Linked DNA regions of Homo sapiens. The protein of the gene in region 1 purifies or fractionates together with the protein of each later gene. This does not show direct contact. Each region holds a gene or a part of one and is shown on either strand. Other genes may lie near its edges.

Region 1 (7,307 bases):
CTGGTGCAACACAGCATTCAGGTGTTCCAGAATCACATGTATAGTTTATAACCCATATCTGAAATCAAATGTTTCTTCAAAGATGAAAGTCTGGCTTCTTTTACTGTGAAATAGTATCTAGAGACTCCCAGGGTACCCTTGTGTGTGTGTGTGTGTGTGCGTGCTAATAATGCTTCTTGAGACAAAAATAACTTGTGATAATTTGGGAAAAATTAATGGAAATGGAAGACAGATGACATTCTACATTTTATTTATAAATTAAGGTAATGTACTTAGGGCAAACTTTTCATTTATAATAAATGTAGAGTATCATTTCCCTTCAGGCAGATATAAAACCAGATACTGTATTTTCTTGGTTTTTAAAAAATAGCTAGAAGAGGTTAATAAATTTCTTACAAGCAGAAGTCTAATAGCTAGAAAGTAAATCCTGTTAAATAAAATGTAGTCTCCCTGTTAATTGACTTTTCTTTTGCAGTTCTTAAGTTTGAGACTTGTCTTTTATTTCAGTTTCTCCTTCTGCTCTATTTCTTTTCATTTTTTTCATTTCTTTTTCTTTGACCAACTGCAATAAGAAACACTTGATTCTTTTCATAACTTTATTTTGAGATTCCTTAATTTTATTTATAACTCTTAGTATTTTTCTCTCGATCTCACTTCAGTTGGTCTGTCTTTGTTGTTAAAGGTGTTGGCATGTTAGAAAGGGAATTAATAGTTTTCTAGTTTAAAAATTGGGATGTTGTTTCTGCTATATATATATTATATATAGCAGATGTACTATATTATATATAGCAGATGTAGAGAATGATTGTAGTCTACACTAGTAGATACTTTAAAAATTAATTTGATAAAGATTTGGCCTCTCTAGTGGTTTACTACCAGGATTTCTAGGCTGTTTTGTCTGGACCCTGATTTTCTGAACCCTTGTGTCAAGCAAGAGTTTGCTTGGAATACGTTCTTGCTTTAAGATTCCCCTACCTTTTCAGTTATTTTGTTCACTCTGCCTATGTTGGCCCATCTTCCTGTGAAAACATTTCTTTTGAAAATTCTACATATATATATTTTTAGGGACATTATTAATGTTTTATAAAAGTCTTGAATAAAATCTTAGAAAAAGTCAATGATTTATTTTTATGAATTGTTTGTGAGTCTTTCTATACTCATGATTCAGTAATTTGTTAATTTTGACAGTGTTTCATACATCAGAAAAATACAAAAAATTTTCTGTCTTTAAAAATTAGAAAACCAAAAATCAATATTGTATTTAACTTTTCTCTGAGATGCTTTTAGAGTTATGTTTAGATTATTGAAGAGTACATTTTCTTTCCTCTTAAGCATACCCTCGGGGAAGTCTGGGTACAGAAGACATCTGAAATGAATACAGATAAACAGTATTTTTGTCGTACTCATTTGGGACATCTTCTAAATCCCGGAGACCTGGTGTTAGGGTTTGTATTATTTCATATTTTAAACTGCCAATTAGGATTGCAAATTTTCTTTGGGAACCAGCAAAACTACCTAAAAATACTAACATTGTTTATTCTAAAAAGATCGAAGGGTTCTTAGGAGCCTTATAACTCATTTTATTGTTGATAACTAAATTAAACTGGGTTGGACAGAAGCCCATAGTTACTCCATTTTGGTTATAATCTTAAAGAGTAATTTGTTGTAAGATTTTGTTAATTGAGCCTTGAAGTTATATGGTTGTATCCATATTTAGAACTGCTTTTGCAGATTGGGTCTTTTTTATTGTGCAGTTGCTACTGCTCAGATAACTCACTTTTAAGATATGACAACTATATATATACAAAGGGCTTGTAAAGGCATAGATCAGTTCTTTCTGAATCAGAGTTTTTCAGTGAGTGTGTGATTAAACCCTCAAATATTGCTTTTGCTTTTAGGATTTCAGTTTCTTTTACTACAGAATGAGGTGTTTTTTTTTTGTTTGTTTGTTTAAAATAAACTAGAAGGAAGCAACTAATTGAATTCTAAAGTTGGACTGATATGTAAGTCTGTTTTGCTTTTACAAATGTATGGCAAGGTGGACAATAATTGATTATAAGTGAAACTCAGAGTTCCTTATTGTCTTTACCAGCATCTACAGAAGCATGTTCATTGTGTAATAAATGACAGAACTTTTAAAGTGAGAAGCATATTAAATGTTTGATTTTTAGGAAGTTTTAGGTGATAGCCATAAAATAAAAAGTTACACACAAAGGGTAAATGGTCACTAAGTTTTTCATTGTTTACATTTCAGGTTTGATTTGGCCAACTGTAACTTAAATGATGAGCATGTCAACAAAATGAACTCAGATAGAGTTCCAGATGTGGTAAGGCTTTAGATTTTTCCCTTTTTTCCTGTGTTAAAGAGGATGAATGTAACTCTTAGGGGTAAGAGGTAGGAGTTCACACTTTTGAAAATAACAAATCAATTTAGAGATTTCTGAAACTGCAGATAAGGTATAATAGCAAAATTTTTTTTTTTTTTTTTTAAAGAAACAGGAGGCTGGGTGCAGTGGCTCAAGCCTGTAATCCCAGCACTTTGGGAGGCCTAGGCAGGTGGATCACCTGAGGTTGGGAGTTCGAGACCAGCCTGACCAACATGGAGAAACCCTGTCTCTATTAAAAATACAAAAAAATTAGCCAGGCGTGGTAGTGCAAGCTTGTAATCCCAGCTACTTGGGAGGCTGAGGTAGGAGAATTGCCTGAACCGAGGAGGTGGAGGTTGTGGTAAGCTGAGATTGCGCCGTTGCACTCCAGGCTGGGCAACAAGAACAAAACTCAGTCTCAAAAAAAAAAAAAAGAAATGGGAGTCTTGCTTTATTGACCAGGCTTGCGTGCAGTGTCATGATCACTCACTGCAGCTCAAAATTCTGAGCTCAAGTAATCCTCCCACCTCAGCCTCCTGAGTAGCTGAGACTACAGGCACATGCCACCACTCCCAGCTAATGTTTAAAACACGTTTTGTAGAGACGGGGTCTTGTTATGTTGCTCAGGCTGGTCTCGAACTCCTGGCTTCAAGTGATCCTCCCACCTCAGCCTCTCAAGTAGCTGGGATTACAGGTGTCACCTATCATGCCTGGCTTCATTTTAAATAATTTTTCTTGGTGGGGTAAATCCAAGATTTATTGTGATTGTTCCTTTTCTAATCACATTTTCATTCTCGATCAAAATACCTGATATTATCTGTAGAGCAAAAATAAATTTAGCCGGGTGCGGTGGCTCATGCCTGTAATCCTAGCACTCTGGGAGGCTGAGGTGGGTGGATTGCTTGAGCTTAGGAGTTCGAGACCAGCCTGGAAAACACAGTGAAACCCCATCTTTACTAAAATACAAAAAATTAGCCAGGCGTGGTGGCATGCACCTGTAGTCCCAGCTACTTAGGAGGCTGAGGCAGGAGAATTGCTTGAACCTGGGAAGTGGAGGTTGCAGTGAGCCAAGATCATGCCACTGCATTCCAGCCTGGGTGATAGAGCAAGATTCCGTCTCCAAAAGATAAATAAATAAATTTGCAGCTAAAAATGATGACATTTAGCATTTTTTCAGGTTCATTTTTATTAGGCTCACTTCGTTTCACATACATTGTTCAGTTAAGAAGGCATTTAGAGTTAAGGCTGTTATTCAAAGCTGAATAAAATATCCGTGAAAAATAATCTTCACAGTATCAAGCCTTGGAAAAAAACTATTAATTCTGAAAAATCTGTTAAGTTCTAACATGATGAGGTTAAGAATCATGAGAAACTGAATGAAATTAGTGTGAAAGACCCTGTCTTCTATACTTGCTTAATCTTTTAGAATAAACATTGATTTCTTTAGCAGTGAGCAAAAAAAGTAGAGCCATGACAAATCAAGGACTCCGACCACCTGCCCAGTTGTACTTTTATTAGTTGATAAATTAGGAATTAACAGCGTGGTTGGAGTGTAAGTCTAAATAGGTATTTCTAACAAGGTCATAAGAGGAGATCATGGCAATCTTACAATATTTTGTATTTTGTAAAATTATTTTCATTCTATAATTTATTAAACAAGCGTTCTAAGATACATTGTTGTGAAAGTTATATATAGTTCTGTAAATGCTTATTGGTGGGTATAAGAGAAAAAAAGTATCTACTTGTGATATTCAGAATGATTTATATGAATGGTAGCTGAAAACTGAAGTTTGAGTTAAAAGAAAACTACAGTTTTTGTTATTAAGAAAAACAGTATTCAGTCACTGAAAAATTTTAGCAAATTTTAACAATTGTACAAATAATGCTTGAATCCATTCTCATAAAAAGTTAAATACATGGAGAAAAATTTTAAAAGTCCTCTTGACACTGTCTCTCCATCCCTTCTCCTTTCTCCTGAGGTGTAACCAGTGTCATTAGTTTGGTCATTTTTTAGCTTTATTGAATTTTGTGGCCTCACTGTATAGTTCCCATTCTTTGTAACTTTACAAATATTTATCTTGCAGGTATTAATCAAGAAGAGCTATGACCGGACCAAACGTCAGCGTCGTAGAAACTGGAAATTGAAAGAGCTTGCAAGAGAGAGAGAAAACATGGATACAGATGATGAAAGGTCTCGCTTTTCTTTAAATCTCTTATGTTGTCTCAAAGGAAATATTTATGATAAATACTTTTTATGTTGTAAAGAAATAGGCATCACACAATTGATCCTTGCACTCAATTATAATCTTGGATTCTTATCAAGGTATTAATGGAATCAGTATAAGATGATGTAAAGACATTTAACACAGATTTAGTAATTATTTCCTGGTTTATGACCTAATAATTGTAGTGTTAATGTAAACAATTCATTTGAAAAGTTAAAATATAATCATACTTTGCTTAACAATGGGCATACCTTCTGAGAAATGCATCATTAGGTGATTTTGTTGTGTGAGCATCATAGAATATGTGGCACATGACTTTATAATAAATAATTACATTATGAATATCACAAATAGCAGATGAGTACTTATGGCTTGAGATAAAAAGGAAACAGCTCATTGATGCCAAGTGTGTTATTCCTCAAATAATTTAAGCAGAAATGAAGACAGTGTTCTAAAACAGTTTATTGGATGATTCAAAAAGTGGCTTTAATGATGGTGAAGACACCGATGTCTAAAAAAACTGAGAGTTTATATAAAATTGTTTCATGAAATGTGAGTTGGAAACAGCAGTATGTCTACATAGTCCTTAAAATGAAAGTCCTTAAATGAAGAAAATATAACTATATTTTTGGTGATGAAATATTTAAATGTTTATTTAAAGGCAATACCAAGATTTTCTTGAAGATCTTGAAGAAGATGAGGCAATTCGAAAAAATGTCAACATTTACAGAGGTTGGTGTTCTAGGAGTGTTTAAGTCATTTGTTCTGTATATAAGTATAGTTCCTAGTATGAATATTTTGGTATCTTAAGCTTTGATTCTCATAAATGTCTTTAATTGTTTTTTCAACTACTCTAGTCACACTTCTACAAAAAAACTTGCAAAACAATAAATAAAACTTAACAAAATACTGTTTTGTATATTACAGTTAGTATTATTTGCATTCTAGCTTGATCCCTTAAGTTGCTCACTCCTATAGTGGTGGAAGTATATTCTTACAGTTACTCAGTTCATTTGTTCAGTGAATGTAATTTGAATGACTGCTGTAAGAGACAAGAGCTTCTGATACAATGTAGTTACATAATAATAATGATAAGGTAGATATTTGTATATTTTCAAATATATTTAATACTTTGTATACATATAAATACTTTGTATTTATTTTATTCTCTTTGTATTTTTTTAGATTCAGCCATCCCTGTGGAAAGTGACACCGATGATGAAGGAGCACCTCGAATTAGTCTGGCTGAGATGCTTGAAGACCTTCATATTTCCCAAGATGCCACTGGTGAAGAAGGTGCATCAATGCTGACATAATGAGATGTTGTAGACTGTTTCCATACATGGGCTTAAGAAGTTGGACAGAGTTACCTTAAGTGTCTCTACTATCTTTGCCTCCAGATTTCAAGAGGAGAAATTTAGTTTTAAACCTGAATAAACATGTTTGTTTTCAGTGCTCACTCAAACCACTAAAACAGATGGATAGCTTTGAGGTTTTAGATAAGGAAAGATTATGGAGAATGTAGTTGTTATTGATTTTTGGCAATTTTACATTTGGAATTTTATCACTGTGCTTTTTTATATGAGGCACTGTAGTATTTTCACATAGTATAGTACTCTGGATGTAAAAGCTCAAAAATTGTGATTCCTTGAACGTTCACTAAATCTTCAAGCAAAAACACATTTTTACATTATTTTTACGTTGATTATTTTAGTGAAAGACCATATGAAGAAGCATTTTTAATATTAACTTGTTACATACTTTGATCCACTTTACATCATTTTTATGTTGTTGAGGTAGGGAAATTAGGGTTCAGTTTATCACTGGACATTCAGGAGGCAAGTCAATCTTTTTTATTTCCTTATAAAATTAACTCTTCAAAAGCCGTTAAACAGAGAGTTATCTTAATTTTTATTGCAGTAGGAGGAAATATATTTAAAATATTTGTAGATTTATAGCAAATAGAGACTCGTTATTTAAAGGTTAAATAACAATTTGTTCTTTTGTTGTTTTTGCCAGTTTAGGGCAGTAGCTGCTTTTGTCATAAATATCTTCCTACCACATCAAAAATGCTGCTTTTAAAATTTTTGTTTATAAATTGAGAAGGAATTTTCTCTCTATAAGTTTCTGTCATTGAACAGATCACCATTAAAAAGAATATTAGAATCCAGCATGAAGATAATGGCTAATAAAAATGAGGTACATACTTTATAAAACCATTAATCAGATTTGAATGAGGAATGCTTCCCACATCCTTGAAAGAAAAACTGTGGCTTACGTTTTGAAGTATTCTGAGAATGAAGTATTAAGATCCAATTTCTATAAGCAAGATCAGACTTGTTAAGTATGCCGCAAGTAAGAGCTAATTCATTCATTCCATGTGTGCCACTAAATAAAGAGATTGAGCAAGTGCCACTGTGTGGAACATTTTTCTTTTTTTTAATATTGGACTTTCCAATTTTGAAATTATGGATAAAGTCCTAAATTTTCTATAGTGGCTTCTTTTCTGTCTGCATATTTTGTTAAAATTGTGGATCTAAAAGCCATATCCTGTCTTTGGTGGTGGCCTGGTAGGAATGGCTTGTCCTAGTTCTTCAAAGGTAAGATTGACCAAAGCAAGTTCTCATTGGTGGTCTGTGTTTACATCTTCCGTGTCAAGATATTTTAAAGCATGAAAATAAAGCCATTCTTGCCCTTTTTCGTGTGTTTGAAATGG
Region 2 (3,497 bases), on another chromosome or scaffold:
GGGAGGAAGGCATCATTTAACTCTCTTCCCTTTTGTCTGTCCATGAGAATGAGACAAAAACAGGATTCCACAGCCATACCAATCCTGATTAGAAGGATGTAGAAACCATTACACTGCCTGCCACTGGACCAGGAAACTGGGATAATTGTCAGTGTCCTCTTTTGCCCCTACTCTGGGATATTAGATGGCTAAATCACTGTCAATACACCCAGCTGATGAAATGAGGCCCATGGGGCCACCAGAGTTAATATTGGGAATGAATATAGGAACATACACTAACGCCTCCTTTGGTAGACAAGCAGAGTACCAGAGTACCAAGGACCTACTGAAATAGCTCAGGCTTTTTCTTCGAAAAGAGAAAAGGCAGAGCATGTGCAAAGGCCTGCTATTTCTGGCCAGTTTCCTCACTTAAACTATAGAGTAACATCAATATTCATGATGCTGAGGAAGGTTAAGTGGATCTATTTTCTCTTCTATAGTTTGGATCATCTACTTCTTCCTCACCCTGACACTATTTAAAAAACCTTCAGATATAGATATCTATATACCTATATCTATTAGGTGCATTAATTTGTGACATACTCCCAGATTTAAAGAGAAAAGTGTCAGAGGGGGGGAAAAAGTACAGAAGCACAAGTTTATATTTATTTAATGCTAAGAACACAGATATTCTAAAGAGATAAACAGAAAGTAGTTTTATTTTTTCTAAATAGGATTTTGATCACAAAAATGCTGGTGATTCAAACCTTTAAAACAGAAGAGCATACAACCTAAGAAAAATGCAAAACAGGCTACAAACCTGTACATCATGTTACTGCACTGAATACTGTAGGCAACTGTAACATAATGGTATTTGTATCTAAACACAGAAAAGGTATAGTAAAAATACAGTATTATAATCTTATGAGACTGCCAACATATACGTGGTCTGTCATTGACCAAAACATCATTATGTAGTGCATGACTATTAAAATTGTGCAAAACAAACCCCTGTATCCATAGTGTTTAAACCATAAAACCAATACCTGGTATATACATGACAAAACAAAGCATGTAAAATAATATGCAGCCTAAAGAATTCAAAGACAACAAAGGTGACAAAGTCAGGTAAAAGAAAGGCAATTAGGGACATAAGATATTTTTTAAAGCAGGAAGCTGATGATGTCCACTGTAAGCCTGGAAGAAACCAGGAGTCTGAACACGGAGCAGTTACTGATAGGAAGGATAAAGTGCTACATCTCTAACAGCAAGCAAATTAACTCTGCTGAAATTGCCAGAATGAAGGCCAAGGTGGTTTTCAGTAAAGAGTGTTCTCCTTGACAGCATAGCCAGCATGTGGTTGAGCCGGGACCTGATACCAGCGAAGTGGAATTGCCGCTCTTTGTTCAAGTTTCTAAGTGAGTCACTCAAGTACAGTTCCAGGTGGGGGGTGCCCAGGTACTTGGGATAGCCAGGATTGTGGAAGTCAGTGGTTCTGATGGAAGCGGGAGAACCAGTGGAGCTTGCCACAGAGCCTTGGGAAGACACAGAGGAGGAAGACTTCAAACTGGAAGATCTCGATACAGACATTTTTGAGACTGGTGACCCTTCTGTAGATTGAGTTCCTCGAGGAAAGAGAATGTTCTCATCCATGTCAGTCTGAGTAGTGGTCGATCTGGACCAAATCGTGGTTTGAGAGCTTGCTATCCTGGTGATGACTGCAGTCTGGGTACCAGCACATGCTGTGGTGATGCTGGTTTGTGTTCCCACCTCACTCACACTCAGCCCTGGCATCTCCTCTCCTGGCTCTGTTTGAGTGGCAGCGTCAATGGCCTTTCTGCTCTGGAGCTCGTCCCTGTGGCTGCTGAAGTAGTCTTCCTCACTAACAGTAGAGGACTCACAGTCATGGGGCTTGCGCTCTGCCTTGCCCTCTGCGGGCATCTCTGGGTCCAGGTCCGCCTTCCTGGGAGTACTTGACAGCCTAGCCAGCCGCATCCGCAGCAGGTTGCCCAGGGTGAGCTCCTTGGACTGTGGTTTTCGGTTGGTGAGGTGATCAAACTTGTTGCTGCTCTGGAAGTGAGACAGGAGTTTGGGGCTGATGGGCTTGGACTGGGCATACAGGATTCGGAACTCCAGATCAAAGTGTTCAACCACTTGGCCAGACAGAATTACCAAGTTACTGCTGTTTAATTTGCCATCCGTCCATGTAAAACTTAAAGATTAAAAAGAAACAAACAGCAGCTGGTAAGGATGAGCAATTTTGTTTTACTCACTGTCCATCTGAATAATATAGTACAGGTATCTTACCACATAAGGGTCACAAATTTGGTGATATCATACCTACCATTTGCATGTATTTAACTAGCCTTAACACATATATAACATTTATGTGTGTTACCATAAAAGTAAAAAGGCCAACTGTTTAACAAACACACTAAATGCTCAGCCTCAGAGGGTTTTTTTGTTTGTTTGTTTGTTTTGAGACGGGGTCTTGCTATGTTGCTCAGGCTGGTCTTGAACTCCTCGGCTCAGGCAGTCCTCCCACCTCATCCTTCCAAAGTGCTAGGATTACAGGTGTGAGCCACCTCACCTGGTCCTTGCCTCAGAGTTTTTAAAAACTGGAAAGGGGGCCAGGCGCGGTGGCTCATGACTGTAATCCCAGCACTTTGAGAGGATGAAGTGGGCAGATCCTTTGAGGTCAGGAGTTCAAGACCAACCTGGCCAACATGGTGAAACCCTGTCTCCAGTAAAAACACATAAAAAATTAGCCAGGCGTGGTGGTGCATGACTGTAATCCTAGCTACTCGGGAGGCTGAGGTGGGAGGATTGTTTGAACCCCGGAGGCAGAGGTTGCGGTAAGCTGAGGTCACACCACTGCACATTCCATGACTGGGCGAGATTCCATGACTGGGCGAGACTCCATCTCAAAAAATTAATTAAAAATAAAAAATAGGGCTTCTAAATATTTAGGCCAGCATCCCCATTTTAAAGGTAAGAAAACTATTTAGGCCAGCACCCCCATCTTAAAGGTAAGGAAACCAGATAAAGGGATTATCACAGAGGGGAGCTACTGCTGGACTCCAGATCAGACCCTAGGCCCTATGAATTGCTAATGCCCTGCTCCTTGCTACTGTTTGAGTGGCAACATCAGTGGCCTTCCTGCCCTCAAGCTTGTCCTTGTGGCTGCTGAAGTAGTCTTCCTCACTAACAGTGGAGGACCCACAGTCATGGGGCTGTGCTGCCATTTTCACAAAACACCATGGCTCAAAACATTTTAGAGCTGATTAGTGGCCATGTGCCCTTGCCTGTACGGTGTCCCTTCCCCGCCTCCCTCCTCTGCTAGCAGAACTCACACCCACCTGTACCCCAGAAAGCTTTCATTATCATACTCTCTCCAACCACAATAGGGGCAGGCATGTGGTCCACACTGGCCAGAGTATCCTATTCCCTTGGATGCAGGGATTCATTCAGGGTGGGCATGTGATCCCACCAGAGCCAAGTAAGTTTTCAGAGATTTC

What was found.
Region 2: the proteins of NMD3 (region 1) and FAM83D purify together in Homo sapiens (affinity purification with mass spectrometry; 2 studies listed by BioGRID and IntAct, with this or other methods). This does not show direct contact.

The regions. Positions count from the first base shown.
Region 1 is NC_000003.12:161,245,004-161,252,310, forward strand, and holds the end of NMD3 (60S ribosomal export protein NMD3), read left to right. Parts: intron 1-1,332; coding exon 1,333-1,445; intron 1,446-2,254; coding exon 2,255-2,327; intron 2,328-4,450; coding exon 4,451-4,557; intron 4,558-5,252; coding exon 5,253-5,323; intron 5,324-5,776; coding exon 5,777-5,907; 3' UTR 5,908-7,304; downstream 7,305-7,307. UniProt on the Homo sapiens protein: Acts as an adapter for the XPO1/CRM1-mediated export of the 60S ribosomal subunit.
Region 2 is NC_000020.11:38,950,233-38,953,729, reverse strand, and holds the end of FAM83D (protein FAM83D), read right to left. Parts: intron 2,192-3,497; coding exon 1,210-2,191; 3' UTR 624-1,209; downstream 1-623.